7 separate regions of the Homo sapiens genome follow, and all the other regions are linked to region 1. The links come from fine-mapping of genetic effects on gene expression. A gene starts in region 1. Each other region holds a variant in brackets. All regions are shown on one strand. Distances are between the middles of the regions. Region 1 holds the start of NPTX1 (neuronal pentraxin 1). Region 2 has its middle 21 kb from the start of RPTOR. Region 3 overlaps RPTOR (regulatory associated protein of MTOR complex 1). Region 4 overlaps RPTOR (regulatory associated protein of MTOR complex 1). Region 5 overlaps RPTOR (regulatory associated protein of MTOR complex 1). Region 6 has its middle 22 kb from the start of NPTX1. Region 7 overlaps RPTOR (regulatory associated protein of MTOR complex 1).

Evidence for each region. PIP is the estimated chance that this variant, and not a neighbour inherited with it, causes the effect.
Region 2: its variant is fine-mapped to the expression of NPTX1 in sigmoid colon (GTEx, PIP above 0.99).
Region 3: its variant is fine-mapped to the expression of NPTX1 in whole blood (TOPMed, PIP above 0.99).
Region 4: its variant is fine-mapped to the expression of NPTX1 in whole blood (TOPMed, PIP above 0.99).
Region 5: its variant is fine-mapped to the expression of NPTX1 in lymphoblastoid cells (TwinsUK, PIP 0.95).
Region 6: its variant is fine-mapped to the expression of NPTX1 in whole blood (TOPMed, PIP above 0.99).
Region 7: its variant is fine-mapped to the expression of NPTX1 in unexposed skin (GTEx, PIP 0.97).

What each region holds. Positions count from the first base shown.
Region 1 is chr17:80,474,637-80,478,636 of GRCh38, reverse strand. NPTX1 (neuronal pentraxin 1) reads left to right here and starts at 2,030. Exons shown (of 5, transcript NM_002522.4): 1 at 2,030-2,634; 2 at 2,919-3,126. The coding sequence starts at 2,191. RefSeq lists an enhancer at 3,043-3,576.
Region 2 is chr17:80,521,786-80,525,785 of GRCh38, reverse strand. No RefSeq gene overlaps it. Among named protein-coding and RNA genes, the nearest start is that of RPTOR, 21 kb to the left of the region's middle. The variant C/G (reference allele first, on the strand shown) is at 1,675.
Region 3 is chr17:80,573,294-80,577,293 of GRCh38, reverse strand. All of the region lies in intron 1 of RPTOR (regulatory associated protein of MTOR complex 1), which reads right to left. All of the region lies in intron 2 of LOC105371922 (a long non-coding RNA gene), which reads left to right. Among named protein-coding and RNA genes, the nearest start is that of RPTOR, 30 kb to the right of the region's middle. RefSeq lists an enhancer at 1,651-1,945. The variant C/GC (reference allele first, on the strand shown) is at 1,769.
Region 4 is chr17:80,665,532-80,669,531 of GRCh38, reverse strand. All of the region lies in intron 3 of RPTOR (regulatory associated protein of MTOR complex 1), which reads right to left. Among named protein-coding and RNA genes, the nearest start is that of RPTOR, 120 kb to the right of the region's middle. The variant A/G (reference allele first, on the strand shown) is at 1,971.
Region 5 is chr17:80,788,968-80,792,967 of GRCh38, reverse strand. RPTOR (regulatory associated protein of MTOR complex 1) reads right to left here. Exons shown (of 34, transcript NM_020761.3): 7 at 1,459-1,518. Among named protein-coding and RNA genes, the nearest start is that of CHMP6, 200 kb to the left of the region's middle. RefSeq lists a silencer at 2,633-2,712. The variant T/C (reference allele first, on the strand shown) is at 1,549.
Region 6 is chr17:80,452,727-80,456,726 of GRCh38, reverse strand. No RefSeq gene overlaps it. Among named protein-coding and RNA genes, the nearest start is that of NPTX1, 22 kb to the left of the region's middle. RefSeq lists silencers at 1,544-1,803, 2,064-2,273 and an enhancer at 1,481-2,310. The variant G/A (reference allele first, on the strand shown) is at 2,003.
Region 7 is chr17:80,689,764-80,693,763 of GRCh38, reverse strand. All of the region lies in intron 3 of RPTOR (regulatory associated protein of MTOR complex 1), which reads right to left. Among named protein-coding and RNA genes, the nearest start is that of RPTOR, 150 kb to the right of the region's middle. RefSeq lists an enhancer at 1-59. The variant T/A (reference allele first, on the strand shown) is at 2,365.

The DNA of each region.
Region 1 (4,000 bases):
CGTCTAAACAGCCTGCCCTGGGCAGGGCAGGGCTCCTCTCCCGCGCCCGCGCGCTCTCGGCTGGGCACGGTCCGGCTCCAGGCCTGACGGGCGCGGCCTCCCCACTGGACGCGTGCGGGAGGGCGGCGAGGCCAAAGCGCTGGGGCCAGGAGGGCACCCGCCTAGCGGCTCCCTACGGGAGTTGGGGCAGAAGACGCCGCGACCCCGCGCGGGTAATTTCTCCCGAGGCGCGTTCCAGCCCGTGGCGCTGCCGGCGCAGACCCCGCGTGGGGACCGGCGAGGCTAACCCCTCCTGCGGCCCGGGGTCGGCAGAGCACGCAAGGGGCCGCGGGCCGCGTGGGTTTGGGCGCGCCGTGGTGGGCAAGCGGGGCCAGCGGAGCGGGAACCCGCACACCCTCCGAGCGGAGCCGAGGACAGGCCCGTGCGGGCCGCGGGGTCCCTCTGGCGCCAGGAAGCGGCGGCCGAAGGAGACAACGAGAACGCAGCCCCGGCTCAGGGAGGCTTAAAAGCTGAGATGCTGAACGCAGACGGCGGGCGCTCGGGGGCTGGGGGGCGGGTAGAGGCCGCCATTTCTCAAAAAGGTCTCCATCGAGCCGGCCTCTGCTCCCGCCCGAGGGGCGGACGCCCGATCCCGGCACCCGGGACTGCCCGTGGGTCCCTGCTGGCTGGGGACCCCCAGCCCCCGGCTGCGCGCAGGGAAAGGCTGCAGAACGCAGAGACCAGAGAAGCCGGGGGCGGCGGGGAGGGGTCGGGGGGCCACGGCTGTAGCCCGGCCCCGCAGTCTCGGAGCCTCAGTTTCCTTCTCTGTACCACGGGAGCGTGGACGGAGGGATTTCCGAGGCTTTGACCGCTCTGATAGCCCCGGGGCGGGGCGGGGCGGGGCGGCTGCGCCAGCCCTGGTCCTGAGCCCCCAGCCCGGCGCCGGAACCCGGACCGCGATCTCGGGAGCCGAGCCCCGCGGTCCAGATGAAGGCGCGAGTGCGCGGGTGCCGGGTGGGGTGTCTGAGCGAGAGCGGAGCTTCTCAGGTGGACGCCCCCAGCCACCTCCGGGACCCTTCCTGCTGGCCTTTGGGCCTGAGAAGTGGGCGCGGCTGGACAGACGGGAAACAGCCCCCCACGCACAGGTGGACACCCGGGGATACCGGGCGCGCGCGGCGCCTGGCAAGGGGAAGCTGCTGGAGACGCGGGCGGCTGCTCCCGCGGGGCCCCCTTCCGAAGCGCCGCTGCGAACGTCCAGCCCCGGCGACGCCGCCTGCCCGCGATCGGGCCGGCGCCGCGGACAGGAAAGGCTCGATCAGCTAGGTCTGCCTCCGAGAAGTCCCCAGCGCCCCGCCCGCACGGGGTGGGGACTGACAGTCCCCCGGGGACGGGGCCGGGTCCACAGAGCCCGGGAGCTGGGGGAGGGGAGGCGCCGGGGGCCCCGACCCGTGGGAAGTCCCTGTACCCAGGCTGCCCGGCGGCTTCTCAATAGCACACGGACATCTAAGAAACGCGGGGCGGCCCGGTGACCCCCGCTCTGGACTTAGTGGCGCCGCGAGGCCCCACTCCGAGCCGTTGACCACCGGGCACTCGGGTGTTGACGACCTGGGTCCTTGGGCACCCAGCCCGGCTCCAAACGACCCCGGCCCAAGGGTGTTCAGTGCAGCCAGGAGGGCCGAACCGAATTCTATCTCCCGGACGCGGTGGTTTCCCGCCCGCCTGGAGCCCCGTCGGAGGTTCGGGGACACCACGCAGGTGGTCCATCCTCGAGTCCGGGGCCGGAGCCCGACTTCCTTCCCCCTGAGCTCTCGGAGCCTTCGGGGCAGCAGCGCCGGCCCAGGCGGGGGCGGGGGAGGAGGGGGCCGCGGCAGCTCCCAGAAGGGCGGGGGGGACGCGAGCGGAGGCAGCCCCGGTGGCGCGCTCGTGAGACCCCCGCCGCGCCGCGGGCCCGGGCCGCGGACAATTAAAGCGGGATTCCTCCCCCGCTGACGTCGGCGGCTCGAGGCCCCTCCCGCGGCGGCATAAAAGGCGCGGGCTCCGCAGCGCAGGCGGCAGTGGGGGCCTGATAGCGCGGCGGTGTGGACCGCGCGGCCGAAGAGCGCGGCGCCCAGAGCGCGGGCCGCTCGCGGAGCCACAGCCCGAGCCGGGTCCCAGCCGGAGCCGAGCCCCAGCCGAGCCGAGCCGGGCCCGGAGCGCCCGGTGCCCGCAGCCATGCCGGCCGGCCGCGCCGCGCGCACCTGTGCGCTGCTCGCCCTCTGCCTCCTGGGCGCCGGGGCCCAGGATTTCGGGCCGACGCGCTTCATCTGCACCTCGGTGCCCGTGGACGCCGACATGTGCGCCGCGTCCGTGGCCGCCGGCGGCGCCGAGGAGCTCCGGAGCAGCGTGCTGCAGCTCCGCGAGACGGTGCTGCAGCAGAAGGAGACCATCCTGAGCCAGAAGGAGACCATCCGCGAGCTGACCGCCAAGCTGGGCCGCTGCGAGAGCCAGAGCACGCTGGACCCCGGAGCCGGCGAGGCCCGGGCGGGCGGCGGCCGCAAGCAGCCCGGCTCGGGCAAGAACACCATGGGCGACCTGTCCCGGACACCGGCCGCCGAGACGCTCAGCCAACTCGGGCAAACTTTGCAATCGCTCAAAACCCGCCTGGAGAACCTCGAGGTCCGCGCGCGCCCTCGGCTCCGGTTCCCCCTCCGGCTCGCTCGCCCCTCTGCCCTCCCCCACCCCGTTCCCTACCCGGCCAGGCATCCCCCGCCCTCGCCTCAGCCGCGCGGGTGCCCGGCCGGTGCCTCCCCGCGCCTGCGAGGCCCCGCGGCGGCCACTCGCCCCAGCTCCCTGCCAGGCCGCCCCCGCAGTCGCCCAGAGGGGACCGCGCCGCGGGCCTTCCAGCACGGTCCCCGCGCCTCGCCTAACGGTGTGGTTTCCCCCGCCCTTGCACCCCGCAGCAGTACAGCCGCCTCAATTCCTCCAGCCAGACCAACAGCCTCAAGGATCTGCTGCAGAGCAAGATCGATGAGCTGGAGAGGCAGGTGCTGTCCCGGGTGAACACCCTGGAGGAGGGCAAGGGGGGCCCCAGGAACGACACCGAGGAGAGGGTCAAGATCGAGACCGCCCTGACCTCCCTGCACCAGCGGATCAGCGAGCTCGAGAAAGGTACTGGGGCCAGGGGGAGCCGTGCTGCCTGCCTGCACCTGCTTGCCCGACCCTGCCTCGGTCCCGATCCCTAACAGCCCAGCTCTGCACTGTGCAAGCCTCAAGCCGCTCCGCTACCCCCAACCCCTGCACCGCTTTCTCATTCCCCGCACCCCTTCCCAGGTTCTGGGCTTCTAGTCGGTGTTTCTATCAGGGCTGGGTGCCTTGGGCTGGGGCTGTCTCTGGGAAAGGGGATTGCATAGTGCCCCCTCCCCCATCCAGACACACTCACACACTCGCTGGATTTTTCAAGTCTGATTTGTTTAATCCTCAGTAACTTTGCACAGTGGCTGTCGCTGGCTCAAACCCTCCCTGCTTAAGAAAGCCTGTCTCTCCCTGGTCCCCAGCCTCAGCGTACAGCTGGGTGCAGGCTGGGGCTGGGCGCTCTCGTTCCCCGGGCCGCTGAGGCTGTTAAGCAGGTTTCTTCCCGGCTGCCATGCCCCCGGTGTCCTCTCAGGATCTCCAGCTCCTCCCCACTTCTGTCCTGAACCCCTACCCTGAGGTTTTCTTTTCTGAGTGACCCAAGTCCTGGCATCTTTCAAATCCCTGAGGTTTCTCAGTCACCAACTCAGGCCAGCCAGTCTATCACCCAGGGCGCCTGGATGAGCGCTGGAGGCTCTGTCTTGAAGTCGCAGAAATCAAACAAGGTTGTAAAAGGGGAGGGGGGGGGGTGCCCGGTGCGGAGCAAGGCCACGTGACCCTGCTCAGACCGCAAAATGTGCCGGACAGATTTAAACAGTGCCATCTTAAGGCTTGTTATGTAACTGAAAAACAGATCAGAAGGAAGGACCTCAGGAGGGAGGGAGAGGGAAGGAGCGGAGATTGGGGAATGAAA
Region 2 (4,000 bases), 47 kb before region 1:
TGCCATGGTTTGCATGATGGTGTCCCCTCAAAAATTCATATGTTGACATTTACTCACCATTGTAATGGGATTAAGAGGTGACACCGTAAGAGGTGATGAGGTCACGAGGGTGGAGACTTCACGGATGGAATTAGGGTCCCTATCAAAGGGCCAGAGGGAGTGGGTCCACCATGTGAGGCCTCAGCATTCGCCCCCTCCCAAAGATGTAGCCACTAGACCATGTTGGAAGAGAACACGGGCCTTTGCCAGGGGGGCTGGGAGTCCGAAATCCGGGGCTCAGCAGGTTCGCTGTCTGGAGAGGGTCCAGCCTGGCTTCCAAGATGGCACTTGGAGCACTGCCTCCTCCTGGTGGGGGGGACGCTGTGTCCTCACGTGGTGGAGGGCAGAAAGGCAAGAGGGACAAACTCCCTTCACCAAAGCTCTTTTATTAGTAGTAGTATTTTTATGGTAGGGTCTCGTTCTGTTTCCCAGGCTGGAGTGCAGTGGTACAATCACAGCTCACCATGGCCTTGACCTCCTGTACTCAAGTGATCCTCCCGCCTCAGCCTCCCAAATAGCTGGGACTAAAGTCATGTGACACCACTCCCAGTTTTTTTTTTTTTAGAGGCAGGGTCTCACTATGTTGCCCAGGCTGGTCTTGAACTCTTGGGCTCAAGTGATCCACTCACCTCGGCCTCCCATAGTACTGGATTGCAGGCGTGAGCCACTGTATCCAGCCTCAAAGCCCTTTTATAAGGGCACTAATCCCTTTATGGAGGGAGGCGTTCTCTTGACTTAATCACCTCTTAAGGCAATTAGGACACAGGGACATGAAGTTTCAACACAGAATTTTGGAGAGGACACACTCAAACCACAGCACACATGCACCAGACTTTCCTTCCTTTGTAAGTTAAGGCTGAATAATGTTAGGGGCAGATGATTCTTGGCTGTGAGTCCATCTGCTGTAGGCGTCGAGCAGCGTCCCTGGCCTCTATCTACCAGATGCTACTGTACCTCCCTCCTCCCAATTGTGACAATTGAAAAGGCCTCTAGACTTTGCCAAATGTCATCTGGGGGCCAAAGTCTTCCCTGATCTGGGAATCACTCTTCTGTGCACACCCACCTCTGAAGACTTCAGTCTCTCTGCATCTACCTGCGTGCCCCAAAGAATAGCCGCAGCTCGGCAAAGAGGCAAGGGCTGAGGTGGCTCAGGAATGTGTCTCCAGCGTCTGGCTGGCTGCAGCCTAGATCCCAAATCCAATCAGAAAGTTACAGCCACACACATCTCATATCAGCACTGCTTAATAGCATTAGGGCAGATTTTCCCATAGCCATTTTTAATATTAAAAAAACAACCCTCTCTTCTCAGAGCCACGTTAAGCATATGGCAAGCTGTGCACTGGCTGTGTGGCCTCCTGCAAGCTCAGCGCCTGCCTCCTGTTTTCTTGCATCAGGGAAGACACAAATCCTGCTTAGAGTCAAACCTCAGGAGATGTGTGAAGCATGTAAAAGTTAAAGATAAACAGGCCTGCTTTGCCCTTGGACACATAAGCTGGATTTTCTGCAGTAATCCAGGCCCTTCACCAAAAAAGCCAAGAGCAAGAAAACCTTCCAGCACAATCCGTAACAACACTCCCCCCGCCGTCCCCCCCACCCGGCCCCAAAACAGCGAGTCTGGTCTGGCAGTCGAGGCAG[C/G]TGACAGCCACAACTCGGGCAGAGTTTCAGCGAGTGCACCCTCCTCCCAGACGCTGCCAGCACAGCTCGGTTTTGATCCACAAACATTCCAAGTTTCAACTCAAGCTCCATATAGCTCTGCTAATACCCATCAGCCCTCAGACAAAATCTTTTATTTCCTAGTAAGCCTGGAATAAAAAAGATGAATTCGCAGGGGATTTAGGAGGGAAACAAAGACACCCGATCCCCTCAGGATGATCTTGACAGAGAATAAATTATGTTTGCTCAAGTATGGTTCATCAGGCATTGATTAAGAGTCATAGCATTTTGGAATTGGAATCAGAAAACTTTATAGTGGGGAAAAAAGAACTCTCCCTTCCAGGGCCGAGGAGCAGTAGTCGTCCATCTTCTTTTGGAACATTCCAGAAAGGTGGCAGCTTTGCCCCAATTCTCACCACCCCTCCCTGTGTCCCTGCCCTCTGTCATGTGACTTGCAGCTCCTCCCACATAGGCAGAATCTGCTTCCCTGACCCTGGACGTCCAGTGTGGCCTTGAGGCTAGCTTTGGCCAGCAAGACAGGCAGAGCAAAGCCAGGGGCTTGCAGACGTGCGTGCGTGGGTGGGCTTGCCTTCTGTTGCCTCTGCCGTCACCAGGACAAGAAGCTGCCTCAGTAAGCCGAGCGAGCCCAGGAGGGTGGGAGACCCAGCCCAATCTGTGGTGTGAGGCAGAGCCATGCCAGCCACAGGCCCAGGAAATCAGTGATGCTGAGCTAGCCCCCGAGCTTGGGACTGGTTTGGCATTCATCATTATTGTGCCAATAACTGGCCAATACAGAAACTTGCTAAGCCCTGAGTGCTAGTGCAGCCCCTGAGGTCCTGTTTGTTACCAGGCATTAGCTGACCCATGCATATGAGCAGTGCTCTGTATCACAGCAGCCCAGTCCCTTTGCCACATCATGCATTGCCAGACAGTGACCAGCATTTGCCTCTTTCCCGCCAGGCTTGGCTGATCCCGACCTTGGAAGCAATCCTGAATATGGGCCAGCAAGTCTAGGTTCGGCTGCCTGACAGCTGTTTCTTGACAGCTCTCAGGTTCCCCAAATATCCCTACCTCTTTGGAATGCTGGGGAGACCCCAGTTACGGAGAAAACATAGTTCTGCCCAAGGCAGGTGGTATCATGGGAAGGCAGCGTCTCCTACAGATATCCCTGCTGCTGCCCACCTCATCCCCACTCCCTACTCCCTCCCCTGCACCTCCCCCAGGCTCCGGACCTCCTCCAGCCCACCACCCCCCACTCTGCTTTTCCCTCCAAGGCTGGCAGCTCCAGCAGCCCCACCCTCCACACCTGTCCCCTTCTTGGTTCATCACCAAGTGACTTGTCCTGAACAAATATTTGCACACCCATGTTCCTGGCATCTTTATACACAACCAAAAGGCAGAAGCAACCCAAGTGTTCATTGCTAGGTGAACGGATACGCAAAACTTGGTGTCTCCATACAATGGAACCTTATTTAGCCTCGAAAAGCAGTGAAACACTGACACAGGCTACAACACAGAGGAGCCTTGAGGACATTATGCTAAGCGAAAGAAGCCAAATAAAAAAGAACAAATGCTGAGCTGGGTGCGGTGGCTCACGCCTGTAATCCCAGCACTTTGGGAGGCAAGGCAGGTGGATCACCTGAGATCAGGAGTTTGAGACCAGCCTGGCCAATATGGTGAAACCCTGTCTCTACTAAACACCCAAAAATTAGCCGGGTGTGGTGGCGGGCGCCTGTAATCCTAGCAACTCTGAAGGCTGAGGCAGGAGAATCGCTTGAACCTGGGAGGCAGAGGTTGCAGTGAGCCGAGATCAAGCCACTACACTCTAAGCCTGGACGATAGAGCAAGACTCCGTCTCAAAGAAAAAAAAATCCTGTCAACTTCCACTCGCATGAAGCCCCTAACACAGTCAGACTTGCAGAGACAGAAAGTGGAATGGAAACTGCCAGGGCCTGGGGGCGGTGGGTGGGGTGGAGAGTTTATGTTTCATGGGGACAGTTTCTGTTTGAGAAGATGAAAATGCTCTGGAGAAGGATGGCGGTGAAGGCTGCACAATCATGTGAATGAGCCAAATGCCCCGGAACTGTGCACAAAAGTGAGTACAAGGGTACATTTTATGTTATTTGTATGTTTCTACAATTTTTTTTTTTTTAGATGGAGTTTCGCTTTTTTGCCCAGGCTGGAGTGCAGTGGTGCGATCTTGGCTCACTACAACCTCCGCCTTTTGGTTTCAAGCAATTCTCTTGCCTCAGCCTCCCGAGTAGCTGGGATTACAGGCGCCCGCCACCACACCCAGCTAATTTTTGTA
Region 3 (4,000 bases), 99 kb before region 1:
CTTTGGGAGGCCAGTTCAGATGGATTGCCTGAGGTCAGGAGTTCAAGATTAGCCTGACCAACACGGTGAAACCCATCTCTACTAAAAATACAAAATTAGCCAGACATGGTGGTGCATGCCTGTAATTTCAGCTACTTGGGAGGATGAGGCTGGAGAATCATTTGAACCTGGGAGGCAGAGGTTGCAGCGAGCTGAGATCGTGCCACTGCACTCCAGCCTGGGCAAAAAGAGCGAAGCTTCATCTCAAAAAAAAAAAAAAAGAATTATGACTGAATAAAGACATTTTCAGAGGCCAGGCATGGGAGCTCACGCCTGTAATCCCAGCATTTTGGGAGGCCAAGGTATGTGGATCGCCTGAGCCCATGAGTTCGAGACAAGCCTGGGCCACAGGGCAAAACCCCGTCTCTACAAAAAATACAAAAATTAGCTGGGTGTGGTGGTACACACCTGCTGTCCCAGCTACACAACAGTCTGAGTTGGGAGGATGGCTTGAACCCAGGAGGTGGAGGTTGCAGTGAGCCAAGGTCATGCCACTTTACTCTAGCCTGGATAACAGAGCGAGACCCTGTCTCAAAAAAACAAAAACACACAAACAAAAAAGATATTTTCAGACTAACGAAGTGAATGTGGCATCAGTAGACCGTCATGAGAAAAGAATTCTGAAGTCTTTCAGTCAAAGTAGGTGGCCCCATAGGAAAGTTCTGAGACGCTAAAGGAAAGGAGAGCGAAGAGTCAAAAGCATGTGCATCAGCCTGAAAGAACAATGACTGCCGAAAACAAGGATGGTAACTTGGGATGTTAAAAATAAAATACTGTACACAGCAATACTCACATACAAGAAACAAACGGATTAAATAATTTCCTAAGTCTTGGGTTGTCTAAGAAAAGAATAAAGGTCATGACGGACGTTGTACTTTTTTCAGTATTCCTACTGTAATTTCTAAGAAACCATTACAAGAGAAAAACAGTGCACTGCTTCAAAAATAGTAAAAGGGAAGAAATTAAATATTTTCAATCTATAAAAAGGCATTTAAAAAAACATTACAGGAAGGACAAATAGAAAGCACAAAAGAGATGGCAGATTTAGGCCCCAATGGCTGTAAGTAGACTAAGTGCTCCAACTGAAAGACAAAAATCATCAGACTGATCTGTTTTAATCCAACTACAAGCTGTTTATAGGAGACATATGAAAAATACAAGGCTACAGAAGTGTTGACTTATATAAAAGGACAAATAAACAAGACTGACACTAACCAAGAGAAAACTGGTGTAACTATCCTGAGACAAAACAGACTGTAAGGCAAAAAGTTTTATTAGGGATAAAGAGTCACTTTACAACAATATAGACTCCAATTTACCAGGAAGATACAACAGTTTTACAACAATATGGCCTCAAAATATAAATGAAGCACAAATGGGCAGAGAATTCTATCTAAATATGTCTAATAAGGAGAATAGACATATTTACAATGATGGTGAGAAGTGTTAATACACCTCTCTGTTACTGATAGAAACAGTCAAAAAAATCAGTAAAGTGTAAATGATTTGTACACCACAAATAAAATATTTGACTTAATGGACACGTATAAAAGGTGGCACCAACAGCTGTAGACACGCATCGTGTTCAAGTACACAGGGAACATTTACAAAAACTGACCACGCACGGGCCTATAAGGGACAGAGCAGCTGAAATTCCAAGCGTGTGCATGCATGTATGCACACGTGTGCACACAGCGGTGCAACCTACACCATCCACAACACGAGGGGG[C/GC]GCCATTCGCACATGGCAACGGTGTGGATGGCTCCCCCTACAGACGTGCGGTGCACCTGCTACTGCCCTGCTGACAGACGTCTACTGATCAAAATGCAATTAAGAAATCAAAAATAAATCCTAGAAAAAGTCTTCTATGTTTAAAAATTACAACACTTTTAAATAATAAATTGATCAAGTCAAAATAAAATTTAGAGAATAATTTGAACTGAACAAAAATACTGTATATCCAGCCAGGCATGGTGGCTCATGCCTATAATCCCAGCACTTTGGGAGGCCAAGGCGGAAGGAGCCAGGATTCAAGACCAGCCTGGGTAACACAGGGAGACCTCGTCTCTGAAATACATAAATATATTTTTAAAAACTACTACTTGTTGAATGCCATTAAGCATTTACATTTCTAAATGCTAAGTGCATACACTAGAAAAGACAAATGGCTGAAAACTAATAAGGTAAGTACTCATCTCAAGAATCTCCCCCTCAAGAATGGCGGAAAAGGTAATAAAACAAACCCAAGGAAAGTAGAAAAAAGGAAATAATAAGATATAAAATAAACTAGGGGGCCAGGCATGGTGGCTCACATCCGTAATCCCAGCACTTTGGGAGGCCAGGGCAGGAGGATCACTCGAGGCCAAGGAGTTCAAGATGAGCCTAAGAAACATAAGAAGACCCTGTCTCTACAAAAAAAAAAAAAAAAATTAAATAAGCTGGGCTTGGTGGCACACATCTGTAGTCCCAGCTACTTGGGAGGCTAAGCGGGGAAGACCGCTTGAGCTCAGGAGTTCAAAGCTGCAGTGAGCCATGATCGCACCACTGCACTCCAGCCTGGGTGACAAAGCAAGATCTTGTCTCAAAAAAACAACAACAAAAAAGAGTGGACGCACAAATCTCAATGTCAGGAATAAAAAGGAAACATTACTACAGTCCCATTGACTTTAAAAAGATCACAAGAGGATGTTACAAACAACTTTATGCCTATAAATTTGAAACCTAGATGAAATAGACAAAGTCTTCTTAAAATGTAACTTGCCAAAACTGACTCAAAAAGAAAAAAAAAACCGGCCGGGCGCGGTGGCTCACGCCTGTAATCCCAGCACTTTGGGAGGCTGAGGCGGGTGGATCATGAGGTCAGGAGATCGAGACCATCCTGGCTAACAAGGTGAAACCCCGTCTCTACTAAAAAAATACAAAAAATTAGCCGGGCGCGGTGGCGGGCGCCTGTAGTCCCAGCTACTCGGGAGGCTGAGGCAGGAGAATGGCGTGAACCCGGGAAGCGGAGCTTGCAGTGAGCCGAGATTGCGCCACTGCAGTCCGCAGTCCGGCCTGGGCGACAGAGCGAGACTCCGTCTCAAAAAAAAAAAAAAAAAGAAAAAAGAAAAAAAAAACCATCTTAAAAGCTTAAATCAGAACTTTAAAAATTTTTTTACAAACAACACTTTCGGATTACATGACCTTATGGGCAAGTTCTACCAGGCATTTGTGGGACAAGTTATTCCCAACCTGGACACGAACTCTCGGGAACTCAAGAATTGACATGAAGCCCAAAACTTCCCCCGACCCAGGCATGTGGGCAGACAGCTGTAGGGCTGACTCTTGCAGCCCTGCTGCCCTGGAAATGCACCAGTTAAGATAAATGGGGAAGGCCAGTGCTAGGAGCTGGTTCTCCATCTGGGTTCCCATGAGCCTTCTGATCTGTGGGATGTCCTGGAGTAGAGGGGTGTAAGGTGGCCTCATGATTAGAATGACACTCAAGACCAGCATGAAACCACGGCTGGCTCCTCTGCATCCACACCCCTTACATAACTGCATCCGATCCCCAGCAGCCTTACACACTCTTCAGGATCAAGGGGGCAGGAAGCTGTGTGCATGGCTGCCAGGGCTCCTGATGACATGGAGATATCATGAATGCTGCATATAAAGCAATATAAAAAATAATTTTTACTCTTATATACCTACCAAATAACAGGCTAAAAACTTAAATTTTTTAAAGTTGCCTCTTAGGACAGCATCAAAATAATATCAAGTACTTAAAAGAATTCCAACAAAAGATGGGCAACACCTCTACAGGGAAAAGCATATAACTTAATTCAGGGAAATTAAAGAAGACCTATCTAAATAAGAGATATGCCATGTGTGTGGACCAGAAGTCTCAATTCTGAAAAGATATCAAATCTGTCCAAATTGATGTATAGGCTCAGTGCAATCCCAATCAAATACCCCCCAAATTTTCTT
Region 4 (4,000 bases), 190 kb before region 1:
ACGCCTGTAATCCCAGCTACCCGGGAGGCTGAGGCAGGAGAATCGCTTGAACCTGGGAGGCGGAGGTTGCGGTGAGCTGAGATCGCGCCACTGCACTCCAGCCTGGGCGACAAGAGTGAAACTCCGTCTCAAAAAAAAGAAAGAATGAACTACTGTATGCAACAGGGATGAGGTCAGGGAAGTTCCCCAGAAACCACTGGTGCTATTAATGCAGCAAGGGCAGCACTCCGGGTGTTCTGTGACTTACAGATTCCGTGCAAGGGCAAGAGAAGAAGAATTTGGACTCAGCTTTCAGGGAAGGCAGGCCAGGACCAGTGGCCTGTGCAGCAGCTGGGAAATGCCCCCTACCCACATTCCCACGCCCTAGAAAGCCCCAGAAGCCCCCAGCCCCTGGCTGCTCCTGCTGAGCCAGCAGAACGGGCAGGTCCCACCACCTCCCTCGGTGCACACTTAGGGTAGCCTGGCCTCCGGCAAGCGTGTCCCCGAGCAAAGCCCTGGCTGCAGGGGCACCTGGCTCTCCAGCCTCTGTGGTGTGAGAAGCACCCGGGAGGCAGCAGACCCACAGCACTGCCACAGCTACTAAAGCTCTTTCTTTCATTGATATTCAACTCGTCCTTTACAGAATACTGGACAGAATAAAATCTGACCTTTAAAACAGTTGTTCTTCTCTGAAATCATGGGAACAACATTCTCATGCTCAAACCCGAATGCGGACAAGCCGCTGTCCTGAGACTAAACTCCAGCAGGACCCGCTCTGCCTGTGATCCCTGGGGCAGCCGCTCTGCTGAACAAAAGGTTTCTAACAATAAACAATGAGGAATAATGACTGCCAGGTAGCTGGACAGAAAAGAGGAGATCCCTGTGACGCAAGTGACCTAAAGAGCTGGTTTTCACTTGTAAAAGCATAGGCATACGGCTGAGAACTGCTGAGGCGTGCAAACATGGGAGACGGGGGTGTCATCTTCTCTGACACTGGTCATTGTTTTATTTTGCTGTCTGCTTGTGAGGAGGTCCTTTCTCCAGAAGCCTGGAAGAATGGCCATGGCCGACTCTGGGAGAACAAGTGCATGCTGAGGGGACAGGGCGCGAAGACCTCCTGCGGCCACCTATCAAAGGCCTTTCTACAAAGAACACAAGCCTGCTCTATGACCTCAAGTAATACTTAGAACCCAGGCCTGCCAGCCTAGGAACATGATGAAAATTATCTCACTCTGTACTTTATAAAGGCTAGTAATGAGTAAAAATGGATGGAGATGGAAGAAACTTGGAGATTATCAGGCAACCTCTCAGTAGCCACCCTCCTTGACAAGTTGAACCCAAAAGAACTCACTAGGATAAACTTTGTCTAGTGGAGGCCCAACCTGCCTCTCCGCTACCCCTCAGGCCTGCTACACTAAGGGAAATGTGGTAACTGTTTACTGCTGTGGTATCTGAAACCTGCACTGAAGAACAGGGCAGGTTAGATGCCCGCGCCTGAAACCAGACGTTTCCTCTGTGCAGCTTCCATGTCATCTGTTTGCATTAAACCCCCTGTGGTTCCAGAATCCCATCTGAAGGTCGTTCTGCCCACGGCATTTTTGTTGCTGACAGAATGGCAGACCCTTGTGGATTTTCCCACTAAAATGATTTCACAGAAAGGTTAACTTTTTTCTAAATGCCAGGCTGCCGGTGGGAACCGAATGAATGAAAAGCAGTCACCTGCATTATCACAATCACAATTACACCACTCATTTCACTGAAAATCTTTCCAATCACCTCTGCAGGCTTAAGTCCAAACTGCAGTTAGTATCAAGCAAATGAAGGAGCCTCCATATTTGTCCCATGAAACCACAAAGAATACTAACATTCTCTCCCGTGTGTCAACAACTTGTTATCTTTGTCCCAAGAGACTCAGCTAAACAAAGGTCATGGGTGCGAAGGGCTTACTATTTGCTATGACTTCCACTGACATCTTTTAAATGGGAAGATAA[A/G]TTATGCAACTTTATTAACTCTGGGCATCTTAAGTCAAAATAGTCAAGAAAAAGAAACTTCGAAAGTGGGATGAGTAGAAAAAAGAGCACCTCACGATGCACTTGTCAGCAAGGAAGGCGATCAAGTCCTTATTCTGTATCCACTCAAACACCTGTTCCTTATTCCAGTAGGAACAAATGCAGAGTCCAGCCTGCTCCTCTGGCTTCCACTGGAATGTCTGCTCACACTTTGCCCACCTTGCCCAGCCCTGGTCTCCCTTCGCTCCCAGCTCAGACGTCACCACCTCTATGGAGCTTCCCCCGGCTGTCCCCCTCCAGCCTCTCCAAGACCCGTCTAACTCTTCCAATGTGGTATGGACTTACTTCCCTGCCTCCCTGGGGGGCAACAAGCTGTACTGGAAAGATCAACATGCACCGGGGCAGGGATCCAGCAGAACCTACCATCAGCACTGGCACGCTGGGAAAGGGACGTGGAGACGGGAACGCCTTCCTCCCGGGGTTATTGGGAAAATCCAGGCCCTGATGAATCAGTGTCCTAACCACACAGAATGCACTCAACAAGTGCCACCTACTGCATTCCTTGAGTAGACAATTCCTGGAGTGCTGTTGGCTGGACTATAAAGCCTTCTCTGAGGATACGGTAGTGGCCTAGAAGGCTCGATCAGAGGACACGGGCAGTAATTCGCATGGCTTCTGGTCAAGAGAACTCGCCATCACCCTTCACAGACAGCATTCTTCCTTTCAAGGCGCTGCCTCAGTTTACCATCCACTCCTTAGGTGGGTTCTCGGACTGCTCGGCCACCCATCTCCCCACGAGGCTCTGCACCACTACAGCAGGGGCAATGTTGGGCGCTGCTCACAGAGGCTGAAGCACAGTGGAATCCCAATAAACATTTGCTGAATGAATGAATGAATGATGTTTATTTTCCCTATCAGACTTAGAATTCTTTGCCAGTAGGAGGTATCACTTATTGTTATATCCACAGCAACTAGCAAAGTGACGCATATATGGCCAATAATCAACATTTTGCTGCGTCCAACCAAGCAGTCATTTTCATCCTTGCGCCCTTCCTACACTCTGCCCAGGCTGTGATTAGATTCCGGGTCACTTGTTTCGGCCTCACCTATACTCACGGCAAGGACCTAACTCTTCAGGGTCACCCTGAAGACAGCGGTAGCTTGTCCTAGCACTTCTTCTAGTCTCCATCTTCTGTGTCTGCAGCAGGCTTGATCGAGGGAGAGGGAACAAGAGTCTTCTTAAACTCATAGCAAGAAGAAAGAGTAGATAATAAACGTAATTTATTTTGGCAAACCAACTTTGGAGAAGAATAATATTTTAGATAATATCAAGGAGAAAGAGTAGATAATAAACATAATTTATTTTGGCAAACCAACTTTGGAGAAGAGTAATATTTTAGGTAATATCAAATGGCAAGATTTTTACTATTTCATATTGAAAGGCATCGAAAGTATAGCTCTTTGAGGGACAGTCACTAAAAATAAAACGTTTGTCCTCCCTGCTCAGCCCACAAGTCCCAGTCAAGGCATGGTAAACATTTCACAACAGACGCAGGATACACGGGCACAGGCAGATGGGAGGGAGAGATACTCAGTGGCCTCCAGGGTTACGAGACAAACAAGACTTCCTTCATCTTTCCGACGAAGATCTTCCAAGAGTTCTTCATACTTTATATCATTTCTAAAGAAAAATTTTTGGGGGGCCGGGCGCGGTGGCTCACGCCTGTAATCCCAGCTGTGGGAGGCCAAAGTGGGCGGATCACGAGGTCAGGAGATCGAGACCATCCTGGCTAACACGGTGAAACCCCATCTCTACTAAAAATACAAAAAAATTAGCCGGGCATGGTGGCGGGCGCCTGTAGTCCCAGCTACTCGGGAGGCTGAGGTAGGAGAATGGCGTGAACCTGGGAGGCGGAGGTTGCAGTGAGCCGAGATCACGCCACTGCACTCCAGCCTGGGTGACAGAACGAGACTCTGTCAGGAAAGGAAAGGGGAAAGGAAAAGGAAAGGAA
Region 5 (4,000 bases), 310 kb before region 1:
ACAGTTTGATGCATTCCTGATTTTGGATTTTTAGATTTGGGATACGCATCCGGTGTGTGTGTGGGGAGGGCGCAGGGGTGGCGGGGGCAATATATACGTTACAGGTAATAGAGAGCTCTAAAACTCAGAAAACAGAGGGGGAAATAAAAGCCCCAAAGAAAGCGCACAGCAATACCAGTAAACAGATCTCAAGAACAGCTTCGCAAAACTGCAGTCTCGTCAGGGAACCAAACCAACCAGAAGGGGAGGGGAGCACAGATCATCTAGTCCCATTTTTTTTTTAAAGTTATTTTCCACGTGATGCTTCTGAGAGCCTCCACTATCTGTTTAGCCTTTGGAAACAGTCTTCTAAGTCACAGCTTGCACTGTTTGGAAAGCCTCTGGGCACTGAGCTCTGTTAGGTACCCATGCTGAGGACTGCTCACTTAGCACATCTGGTAGACCACTCCACATCAGGACCAGTGTCGCTTCCCCGGCCTTCCTGTTGGCCACACAGCCACCTTCCACGGTGGGAGTGAACCACGACGGAGCTCACCGTGCCCTCATGAACGTTTACACATAATATTCTTGCATTTTTCCCCTGATACACAAGGCAAGCACGTTTTTACAAGAGAAACTTGGAAGTGGGGTTGCTTTTCCTGCCTAATTTAGTAAATTCAGGCCCTAATATTAAGATATAACTTTGTATATTAAGATGTAGAAAACAATTATCTTGCATGTTAATTCTAGAAGAAATGGGGTTCTGAGCCAAAGGGTTTAAAATAACTCCAAAGTTCTTCCATACTGCCTGGATGACTCAGGATGAGTCACGATGAATCCGGTGCACAAACAAACAGAACAAGGCAGTGCAGGCCACGCTCCGGGTCCTGAAACACCACTTCAGATCCAAAAAGATCACGCGAGGGACAGACGGGTTGGCCAATGGGACTGGAAGGATTATGGGAGGCAAGTGCCATTGACTCTTCATAGGCCTGACTAAATCCCGTCACTTCATCGCTCAGGTTCTGAAATCAGTTTGCCCTGAGATAGTAAAATGGAAACTGGATGGCGACAGGGGGGGAGGGGATGGAAAGTTACAGAATATTAAAGGGACAGTTTCAGAAAATAAGGTAAGAGCTAGCTATGATCTAGCTATCATTTCAGTGGCAGCAGAAATGATTTGTATGCGAAGTGGTATGTTCTTGCTTTGGCTTAAAGTCTGGAGACTTTTTAAATGTTCAAAGGAATTCAGCTTTTTATTATTTTTCTTTTCATATGGCCCATGTTTGGTTATCTCCTGCACTAAGCCCCAGTGTGACAATCACAAACACAGCCTTAATCAGAGAACAAAAGAACACAGCCACATGAAAGGGAACATGCCATGTTGATAGAAAGTACTTCTGAGAAGCAAGAGCCTTCAAAAAGGAAAAGAAACTCATCAGATCCAGAGAGCCACAAGAGCTTAAAAATCCTACTTACTTTTCTATCAAATCCAGTGTGACGCCAGGCACCAGACTGACACATTTCTGCATGCAAAACCTGCAGAGAAAGAAAAGAATGTGAACGGCA[T/C]GAATGGAACAGTCACCCAGGAAATTCAACAGGCCTGCAGAAAAAGGGAAGAGTTAAAGGTGGGGACAGGGACTACCACGGTGAACAAGTACACTCAGATTTCCTTAATTCGGCAGCTTTTAGATTTGTAAAGAAAATCTCATTGCCATTCTGTCAAGGCGTGAGACTACAGAGCTGCCACAGTGAGTTGTCAGGAGAAAGGAGAGAAGCCGTTTGCAGCCACATGAAGCCCGGTCCCTGGAGAGGAGCGCCGAGATGCTTAATAAAGCTCAGTCTCCAAACGAGATGCTGGAGTGGACTGGACCTGCCACTTCTTTCCTTCTTAAGGAAGTGAGCTGGGGAGACTGCTGGAGTAGAATAAATGAGTAGCCTCAAGACACACAAAAGAAATGCAAATTCAATTATATCATGTTCATAATCATAAAATCCTACAGGTCAGAGCTGGGTTCATGTCTGACGCAGGTCCATCCTTAGGAGCGCGTGTGGAGCCGGACAGGCTTTCTCTAACGTGGCGCCAACAGGAGGTAGGAAAGCATCTCTCCTCCCATCCGGGCTACTGGCATACAGTGGGCAGAATCGAGGCAGCAGAGTAAAAAGGCAATGCAGTATTTTTAGTAGGAGAAATGCAAAATGTTTAATTCACCTACTTTTAAAATTAAGAACAAATAACACCCCTTAAAAACATAATGGCAGGTGCAGAGCAAGTATGCACATCTCCAAAACACACTCGCGGACTGTTGGCTGGAAGTGAGTGATGGCAGAAGTGTTGGCTGGAAGTGAGTGATGGAGAAGGACAGTGGCCCAGGGGAGGGTGCAGTGCAAGGGTCAGGCACGTTCGGGGGAGACGTGGCAGTGACTCCTCTATGGGGGATGGTGGACCCAGGAGGGTACCCATAGCAGTGGGATAGGAAATGGGAGAAAAAGACACAGAGGAACTGAGAGATCCAGAACCAGGAAGACAACGAGCCAGAGGTGTGAAGACAGTCTCACTTTTGCAGCCCTGCAGGGCGAGGGGAGGCTGAGCTGGTCATCCTGGACCCCATGCATGGCTGCCAGCCACACTCACTCTCTCAAGAAGTGATACCTGGCTCAGCCAGCAGAGAGGAAGTTATATTCTTGGTTGTGGCTGCAGTAGTCAGTGTTTTATCGTTCAAAGAGCTGAGAAAATAAAAGTGAGGCCCACGTTTGCCTGAAGCTACAGAGCAGCCCTTTCCCACGGCATCAAGTGCCCCGTGTGGCCCCAGTGCTTCCCCGAGCCAGTCAGTGCCACTCTGAGTGGTCTCCTCTGCTGGCTTCACTTGCAGATGCTCTCCTCAGCCATGCCCAGACACCTCTGCACCAGCACAGACACATGCAGCTCCTACGGTGGTCCCAGGCAAACCAGAATTTCTCTGTGGATAAAAATGATCTACAGGAAATGCATTTTCAAATCTGAGTCCTATGCGAACCATGCTACTTTGTCTTTTTATCCATAATGTACTTACTGATTGGGATTTCTAGAGTCCAGTAATGACAGAATCACTTATATCAGACTCATCCTTTTGCCAATAATGATAAGCTCTGGACAAAATATTAAAAAGCCATTTGAAAATTCTGAACAACAAACAAATGCAGGCAGGAAGGCAGGAAATGGAAGGGCCGTGACCCTTAGAAAATGAGAGTAACTCTGCATGAATCACTTTCATCTGGCTTTTCCCAAGGGTGCTCCTCACTCACAAGTCATGTGGGGGTTAGCATGCGACTGAAAGGCAGCAGCCTTACTGGGTTGAGACCATGCTCAAGGCTGCCTGGATATTGCAGGCAAAAGCCCTAGGAAGAAGGGAGCCAAAACCCTCATGTAAACCTTCCCCGAGTCGGAGGCTGGCTCCTGAAGGGCACGCACACAGGATAATATTCCCAGGATCCCCGTGGAGGACAGCAGGAAGGTTGAAAACGCAGAGTAGAGATTTTGACATCTGCTTGCCACTGTGAAGACAGAGAAGATCAGGTCCTGCCAAACTACAGGGCTTGATCACATCTGAGGACATGGACACCCCAGAGGGATTATGAACCACACCTTAGAACTAAGATCAAAGCCAAAAGAGCCTAGTCCTATAACGAAGCCTCTACAAGATCAGTGTAATTGCCCAAAAGAAAATAACAGAATCTAGAATGTCTACAATGCCTCATCCACAACAGATAGTATACTATCTAAAATCAAGAGAAAAAAGTCAATAAAAACAGATTCATAGTTGGCCAGATATTGGAATTAGTACACAGAGACTTACACATTATAAAAATAATTATTGGCTGGGAGATAAGCATATTATAAATTCAGTGAAAATATAATGTTCCCTTAAATAAAAAATTAAAATGGGAATATCATGCAACTTTATTATAGCATGGCTATATGAATAAGCGTAGCATGGATATATCAGTCACTGATAGTATGCAAACTTCATTTTAGCCAAAA
Region 6 (4,000 bases), 22 kb after region 1:
TGCAGTCCATTCCCCGGATGTCTGATGTGGGCGGCAGCACAACACGTTGCTTGGAGGGGCAGTGAGGTCATTCCCACAATTCTGAAGAAGGGTCAGTGGACTGTGTGCTCAGCAGGGAGGGCTGATGGGCCAGACTTGTGGATCACTGACAGCCGGGTCGGAGGGGGGGCTCACCGGGAGGGGTGTCCCCCACCACCCACTCCAGTTCACACTGCTTCTGACTTGTGCCCAGGAGAGCAAGCTAGCCTTCCAGGGGGCCAGAGTAACACTGGGCATCCTCTCGCTGCCTGCTAGGGTGAGACATATGGGACACGTGTGTAGGTGTCTGTCCTCCTTTGATTACTAGTGCTGGGTGGGGGGGGGGGTCCCCAGAGGTCCCCAGGGAGTGCAGAGGCAAAGGCTTAGCATCTGCCCTTGCTGCCTCTCTCCTGGACCAGACTGCTTCCCCTCCTTCTCCCAGGACCTGGCCGTACCTGGAGGGTGGAGCCCTCCGTTGAGCCTGCTTGCTTGAACTTCCCTTCCTCCCCTGCACTAGCAGGCCCCTCAGGCCTCATGGGGACACTCTTCCCCAACCCCCTACCTCACCCCCTCACCCCTCACCTAGAAGGAGGTCAGAAGAATTTGGTGCCATGGAAAGGAACATGGGGCATGGAGCACTTGAGGACACTCCCGGGACCCCCTCTGCAGGGGAAGGTGGAGCTCTGGGGCCAGAGGCTATGAGAGCACCAGCCAGCTCAGTGCACATTTGTCTGAGTCCGGAGTCCCAGTGCTGCTGTGAATGCGCTGAAGGGGTGAGGCAGGGATGGGGTGTTAGGGAGGAAAGAGAACTCTTTGTGAGTCACATTTCAGACGCCTCCATTCCCATTCATACATTAGGGTCTGTGGGGGACTGGGGCACATCAATATATTGTTAGAGAAAAAATGTATATGCAATATAAATGCATTAAGAAAAAAAAACACCCGAAGAAACGATTCTGACATGTTAATAGTGGTTCTATGTGGCAGTGGGATCGAGGATTTTTATACCGTACTTTCATATGTTTTCCAAATTTTCTACACCAAGCACGTGTTAGTTACGTAATTTAAAACTTATTTATTTTTAAACCAAATTCTCCAGCCAACTGTGCTTTTCCCCAGTTGCAGTAACTTTCCTTTCAGTCAGGTTTCTGGGTGAATCCAAAGAACAAGGCGGCCTCTCAAGCCCACATCATGTCACGTTCATATTTTCATTCTTCCTTCGTTGGGCCGGCTCTGCGGAGGCCGAGCGCTGGGGCTGGGGCGAGAACGGTGTCCCTGTCGTCAGGGAGTTTCCAGCTAGTGGCCTTCTCCCGCTTCTCAACCCATCCCCTCCCCTGTCCGCCGAGGTCGGGCTCTGACGGGAGCGGGCCGCCCTCCGTCTGATAGGTGCGGTCTGGGGAACTTGAGCTGCCCAGTCTCCCTCCTTCTTTCCCCTGCTGCAGACCCCAACTCTGAGCTTGGGGGACAGGGAGGCCGAAAGGGCCCTGTTAAACGCTGGGTGCTGGGAAGCCGCCCCCTCCAGGGAGCCCTCAGGACCTCAGGCCAGGGCTGGAAGCGAGAGGAGGCCGGAGCCCAGGGAAAACGGGCGACCGGGGGCGGCGCGCGTGTCAGTAAGGAGCCAGGCGGCGGGGACGGAAGCTCCGGGAGGGCGGCGGGCCGGGGCGGGTGTCAGAAGGCTCCGATTGGGCCTTCTGCGGCCCTGCTTCCCCCGCCCCCGAACCCCCCAAAAGCTGCGGGCAGCGGCAGGGCGCCTGCGACACAGGGGCGCGCCGCGCGGGACCTGAGGAAAAGCTACGGCCAAGCCCCGAGCACAGGCGCGCCGCCGCGCTGGCTCCGGGAACGCGGACGCACGGCGGGGCTGCCACAGCAACGCAGACAGGAGCGCGGCGACTGGCGGAACCGCGGAGAGGCGGGACTCAGGAGGCGTCTCGCGAGAGTTAGGCTTCGCGGGCTTCCGGCCGGTGCCGGCCGCGGGGGCCGACGG[G/A]GTTAGGCTTCCGGCGTGGGTTGTGTGGCCTCTCCCAGCTCCACGCGTTTCTGGGCGCCGGGCACTAGGCGAGCCGGCCGGGCTGGCGCGAGGCCGCAGGCGGGAAGAGTCCCCGGGGTCGGCCCCGAAGCGGCTCTGGAGGCAGTAGCCGGGGACGCCGAGGTCAGGGAGGAGGCGGATCCGAGCGCGGTCCCGCAGGGCCCTGTCCGTTCTTCCGCCTCGGCCGGTCCCGTCAGGCCGCCTTTAAATGCCCGGCGCCTCGCACCTGCTAACAAAACGAGCTCCTGCTGTTCCCCAGCTCCGTAAATGGTGCCCCTGGCCCTCCCCAGTTCTCAGGCAGAGCCTTGGCGGCCTCCCTGACCCCTAACACCCCGCATCCAGCCCGGCAGTACATCCTGTTGGCTGTGCCTTCGAAATTTCCCCAGACCTGACCTCTTCTCCCACCTCTGCCACCACCCTGCTCCGAGCCGTCTTTTCCCGCCGAGATGACTGTAGTAGCGTCTCAGCTGGGTCTCCCCGCTTCCACCTTCCCCTCCTGAGTCTCCTCAACACAGGAGCCAGAGCGATCTCGGAAAGTACAGGAGGTCATGCCCCAGTGTGGTTCCCCTTTCCTGGGTTTAAGTCAAGGTCCTCACCGTGCCTGCCGGCCTCCCGGGTCTCTGCGCGGTGGACTCTGGACCTCCCTGCCCCGTCCTGCCTCAGGGCCTTTGCACCTGCTGTTACCGCGGCCTGGAACGCTCCTCCCCTGAAACCCTGTGACTCCCACTTAGTGAGGCGACCACCTGTTGAAAACCGTGCCCCCTTCCTATACAGATGCTCCTGTCATATGGGGTTAGATTCCCCATCAACCCATCATAGGTTAAAGCATTGTAAGGCAATTTACGGTAGGTTTATCCGGATGTAACCCCATCTGTAAGCGGAGGAGTATACTGAATGTGTATGGCGTTTGTACCATGGCAAAGCCAAAATGTAAGTCAAACTCGAAGTCCAGGACGGTCTGTGGCCTGTACTCCCTTGCTTTCCCTCCCCGGCTCTTAGCGCCATCCAGCATCGTTGATAATGTAATTTGATGTGTATTGTCTGAAAGCACCAAGACGGCAGAGTTTCTCTCTTATCCAGATCACAGTGTGTGCTCAGTAAACACTAGACTGAGGGGGTGTATGAGAGGTCTTTTTTTCCTCTCTCCTTCCTCAGGAATGGGTGAAGATGAAGTCCTGTAAGGCAGGAGCTGGATCAAAGAAATATCCCGGGTCTTGTCTGTGTGCAGACTGTTGTTTGAGGACTCTGCTCCAGTTCTAGCAGCGATCGGTGGCTCCCTTGGGTGACTCTCCAGAAGGAAGGGTGCCAGCATGGACTGGTGTCTGCTTGCCAGATGCCCTGAACAGCTCATTCCTCAGGAGGCCAGGGGCGCCTCAGGAAGTGCTGTCAAATGCAATCACTCTCAGAACCCTCTGGGCTGAAAGATGTCATTGATTTATGCTGGCAGCCCCGCGCAGCACTCTGCTAGGTGTTGAATTGTCTGGAGAACACCTGGTATCACCCTCAAGGCCCCTTAGTCTGGTAGGAAGGAATGATGAGGAAGAGGCTGTGTGGAAGTCACAGAGAAGGAGGAGGGTGGGATCAGTTTCCAGGGTGGGGTCTCTGGAAGTCCTCTCAGGGGTTCTCAGGGGGGCATTTCTGCCTAGAGCAGCAGGTGTAAGGCGTGAGCCATGGACGAAGGGAAGGAGCCAGCCATCATTGATCGCCTCCTCTGTGCTGGATGTGGCTCTAGATGTCAAGCTCACATTTACACATTAGCCTTCCTTTACAGAGGAGGAAACAGGCTCAGAAAGCCCCTGACCCCGGTTACACCACTACTAAATGCAGGATTCAGATCTTCAGTTGAGCTCTTTGTGGCCGTGAAGCCTGTCCTCTTCCCAGGGCTCGATGCCACTTCCCAGGCTGGAAGCCAGACAAGCATCCGGGGCTGCCCGGAATTGCATGCAAATGTCCGGACAG
Region 7 (4,000 bases), 220 kb before region 1:
CCCACAGCACCATCTGGACGCCCACCCTGCGTGGAAGGGGGTGGCTGACCCTACAGCACCCAGGGCTGGCATAAGTCTGCCAGAGTCTGGGCTGGCAGATGCTGAGAGTAGGAAATTGCGTACACCGAACCCAAAGGGACTACAAGGTCACAGTAACTCGTAATGTTCTCAACACGTGTCTGCCCAGTAAGGGCAGAGTTACGTGAAATTTGTAAAATCATCGACTCTTTCCTTTATGTATTATTCAGTAACAATTCTTCCTTCCTTCCTTAATTTGCAGAAGAGGCAGACAAGAACTAGAATAGCTGGTTTATTATTCAAAGTCCAAAAAGAAAAGCTATTGCTTCCAGATGGGGCCAAATCCACTTCTGAAATGGGTGCTCAGAATCCCCCCAATGAACCCGAGAAACACCATCTCCGCTGGGAGCAACTCTGCCCTCGGGGGCACTGGTGTTGTCTGCAGACAGGCTCGGTCGGCACTGCTGGGAGAAGTGGGCCCTGCTGGCATCTGATGGCAATGGCCTGGGGACCTGCTACACATCCTGTGACTGTCCGCACAGCACATGAGCACACGACCACCACAATCATGAATTAGCTGATCCAAATGCCAATCGGGCCAAGCTGGAGAAACTCTGCTTTAGAGGAAACAATGAAGCTTTGATTCCAATGAGGACACGTGGATTCCAGTCTAATACAGCAACAAGAAGCAAGGTAGAAGAAACCATGTACAACATACAGCACTTCCCTAAAGAGAAAACACTGTGTGCGTGTGTGCGTATATAAATGTACCCAAGGTTACGCATACGTGTCATCACATGTGGTACACATATTATTAAAACATTTCAGTGGTGACCTACAGAAGAAAAGATAAAATAGGCTCACCAGGACAGGAAGAGCAGCCAGGCTCCTTTCAATAAACTTCATTTTGTGTATTTAACTTTGGACTCATGAAATATTTTACATAACTACAAAGCAAAATTAATTTTTTTAAAAAGTAATCCAGCCAGGCACAGTGGCTCATGCCTATAATCCTAACACTTTGGGAGGCTGAGGCAGGAGGATCACTTGAGGCCAGGAGTTCAAGACCAGCCTGGGCAACATAGGAAGACTTCATCACTACTAAAAATATAAATAAATAAATTAGGCCAGGCACGGTGGCTCACGCCTGTAATCCTAGCACTTTGGGAGGCCAAGGCAGGTGGATCACCTGAGGTCAGGAGTTCAAGACCAGCCTGACCAACATGGAGAAACCCCATCTCTACTGAAAATACAAAATTAGCTGGGCATGGTGGCATGTGCCTGTAATCCCAGCTACTTGGGAGGCTGAGGCAGGAGAATCGCTTGAACCTGGGAGGTGGAGGTTGCGGTGAGCCGAGATCATGCCACTGCGCTCCAGCCTGGATAACAGAGTAAGACTCCATCTCAAAAAAATAACATAACATAACATAACATAACATAACATAACATAACATAACATAACATAACGTAGCCAGACATGGTGGCGTGCACCTATAGTCTTGGCTACTTGAGAGGCTGAGGTGGGAGGATGGCTTGAGCCCAGGAGGTTGAGGCTGCAGTGAACTATGATTCTGCTACTGTACTCCAGCCTGGGCCACAGTGAGAGCCTGTCTCAAAAATAAATAAATAAAAATACAGGGTAATGTCACTCGACATCTGTGCCTAACCTGAGAAGGAAGGGCGAGTGCCTCAGCAGCGGCTATGCCTCGGCAGCGGCTCTCAGTAACCGCGTCAGTGGCAGTGCTGGTGTTGCTTTCTGAAACTGCCAGGTGTGGTGCAGGATAAGAGAATGGGTAATTACGTTGGTGTTCATGAACAATCTGAGCACTCCATGTGGAAAGAAGCAGATACAGCTGTAGGACCCATGAGAGTAAGCAGACCTTGCAGACCTGAACCTGGATGTGTAAGAGCGCCTTCGTATTTTATCTTTGAAACACCCATAGAGAAAGGGGGCTGAACAAGGGTCAATGAGCAGCCCTGGAGCCCAGATTAAGCTCTCCATACCACTTCCCATGGAAGGAAACCAAGACTCCCTGGAGACAGACACGTGGCTGATTTCAGGCCTAGGGTAGAAGAAGTACAAAATGGCACAGAACATGCTGGCTTGTCATACCATATCAAAATGAAGCAATTGAGGACCGCGAGAACTGCATCACAAGGCTCAGGGGCCAACACAAAGATGGAACGACGTGGACATCGGTGAAGAACGAATAGAGTAAGTCATGCATTCAATAGGGTGGCCACACACGCCACACCACACACACCTATGCGCACACACTGACATGCGTGCACACACACACATCACTCACATCCACACACACCCCCACACTAGTCACCTTTGAGAGA[T/A]GCAGTGAGAAACGAATACAGTAGGTAGTGCCTTCAACAGGGTGGCCACACACACCACACCACACACATACCTATGCATGCACACACGTGCATGCACACACACACGACATGCACACACACATATCACACCCACACACCCCTTACTAGTCACCTTTGAGAGAAGCCCACACACGATTTTGAAAACTGGTTAATAAAGGAAAGTAAGTATTGATGCTGGCTTTCCTCTATGACTGTACCTTGAGCTATCCAAATAATTGATGAGAGGGTTTCTTTATATAGAGATACTCCAGTTAACAAATAAGGACAGCTAAGCACAGTGGCTCGTATCTGTAACCCCAGCACTTTGGGAAGCTGAGGCAGGAAGATTGCTTGAGGCCAGGAATTAAAAACCAGTCTGGGCAACATAGCAAAACCCTGTTTCTACAAGACATTTAAAAATTAGCAAGGCATAGTGTCATGTGCCTGTGGTCCCAGCTACTTGGAAGTCTCAGGTGGGAGGATCACTTGGGCCCGAGAATTTGAGGCTCCAGTGAGCCATGTTTGCGCCACTGCACTCCAGCCTGGGTGGCCAAGTGAGATCCCCTGTTGCAAAAAAAGGAATGAAACAATAACACCATCTTTTCATAATCTCTAATAAATAGATCCAGACAATGATCATCAATAGCTGCTAATATCACAGAGGGACTATCAGATATCCTAAAGTAAGGACACAGCACCACACATGAAACATTCCCTGACTGAACCAGAATCTAGGGGAGCCCGGCTGTGTCCACCACCGAGAGGAAATCCAAGGAGCAGAGGTGAGTGTGGCTCACCCAGGGCAAGGGGGGAGAAGCCACTGACGAGATCGAGACCACGATAAATTCTACAGGCTACATGATCCAGTTTCTTCAACCAATCAACTGCAGAAAGAGACAGGCAGACAGGTGCACAGAGAGTGCTGGGGTGAGGGACTGACTTTTGGATTAATTACATGGATTAACAGAATAGATGAAGTAACTCACAATACATTCATCTCACTTGCATCCTGATTCAAACAAACATTGTGTGTGTGTGTATGTGTGTGTGTGTGTTTAGAAGCATACTTATCTTTAGAGAAAGTAAATATTTCTTTCAGAAATATTGACAGGTGAAATTACATGAAGTCTGGGATTTGCTTCCTAATCAGCCAGGGGAGTGGGAAGGGGGGACTGGGTGGGGGCACAGATGAAAGGAGACTGGAACTGGCAGCTGAAAATGACTGAAGATAGATGATGGGTATATGTTGAAATTTTTCATAATAAAAAGTTTAAAAATAAACAAATGAATAAGCCATAAAAACAAATAAAGAAGCAAATGAGCAAACACGTTTGAAAATGTTTCAATGATTAAAAGACTCTCCCCTAGAATGCTTTTACATATAACTTAATGGTAAAGTAAAGTTTCCTACTTTAATTAGAATCTGCTTGCATGAAGCGTTTCTCCAAGGTGCAGCCAGACATTTTTAAAAGGTGTCCAGACAGGTAGAAATATTAAATGTGTTTTTAGCAAAGGTACACATACCAAAAATCTGAAAGATTATCATACCTAGAAAAATATGTTTTCTATTGAATAGGAGAATGCTTGAGGGCACTGATCAAAAATTTTAAAAATGAAC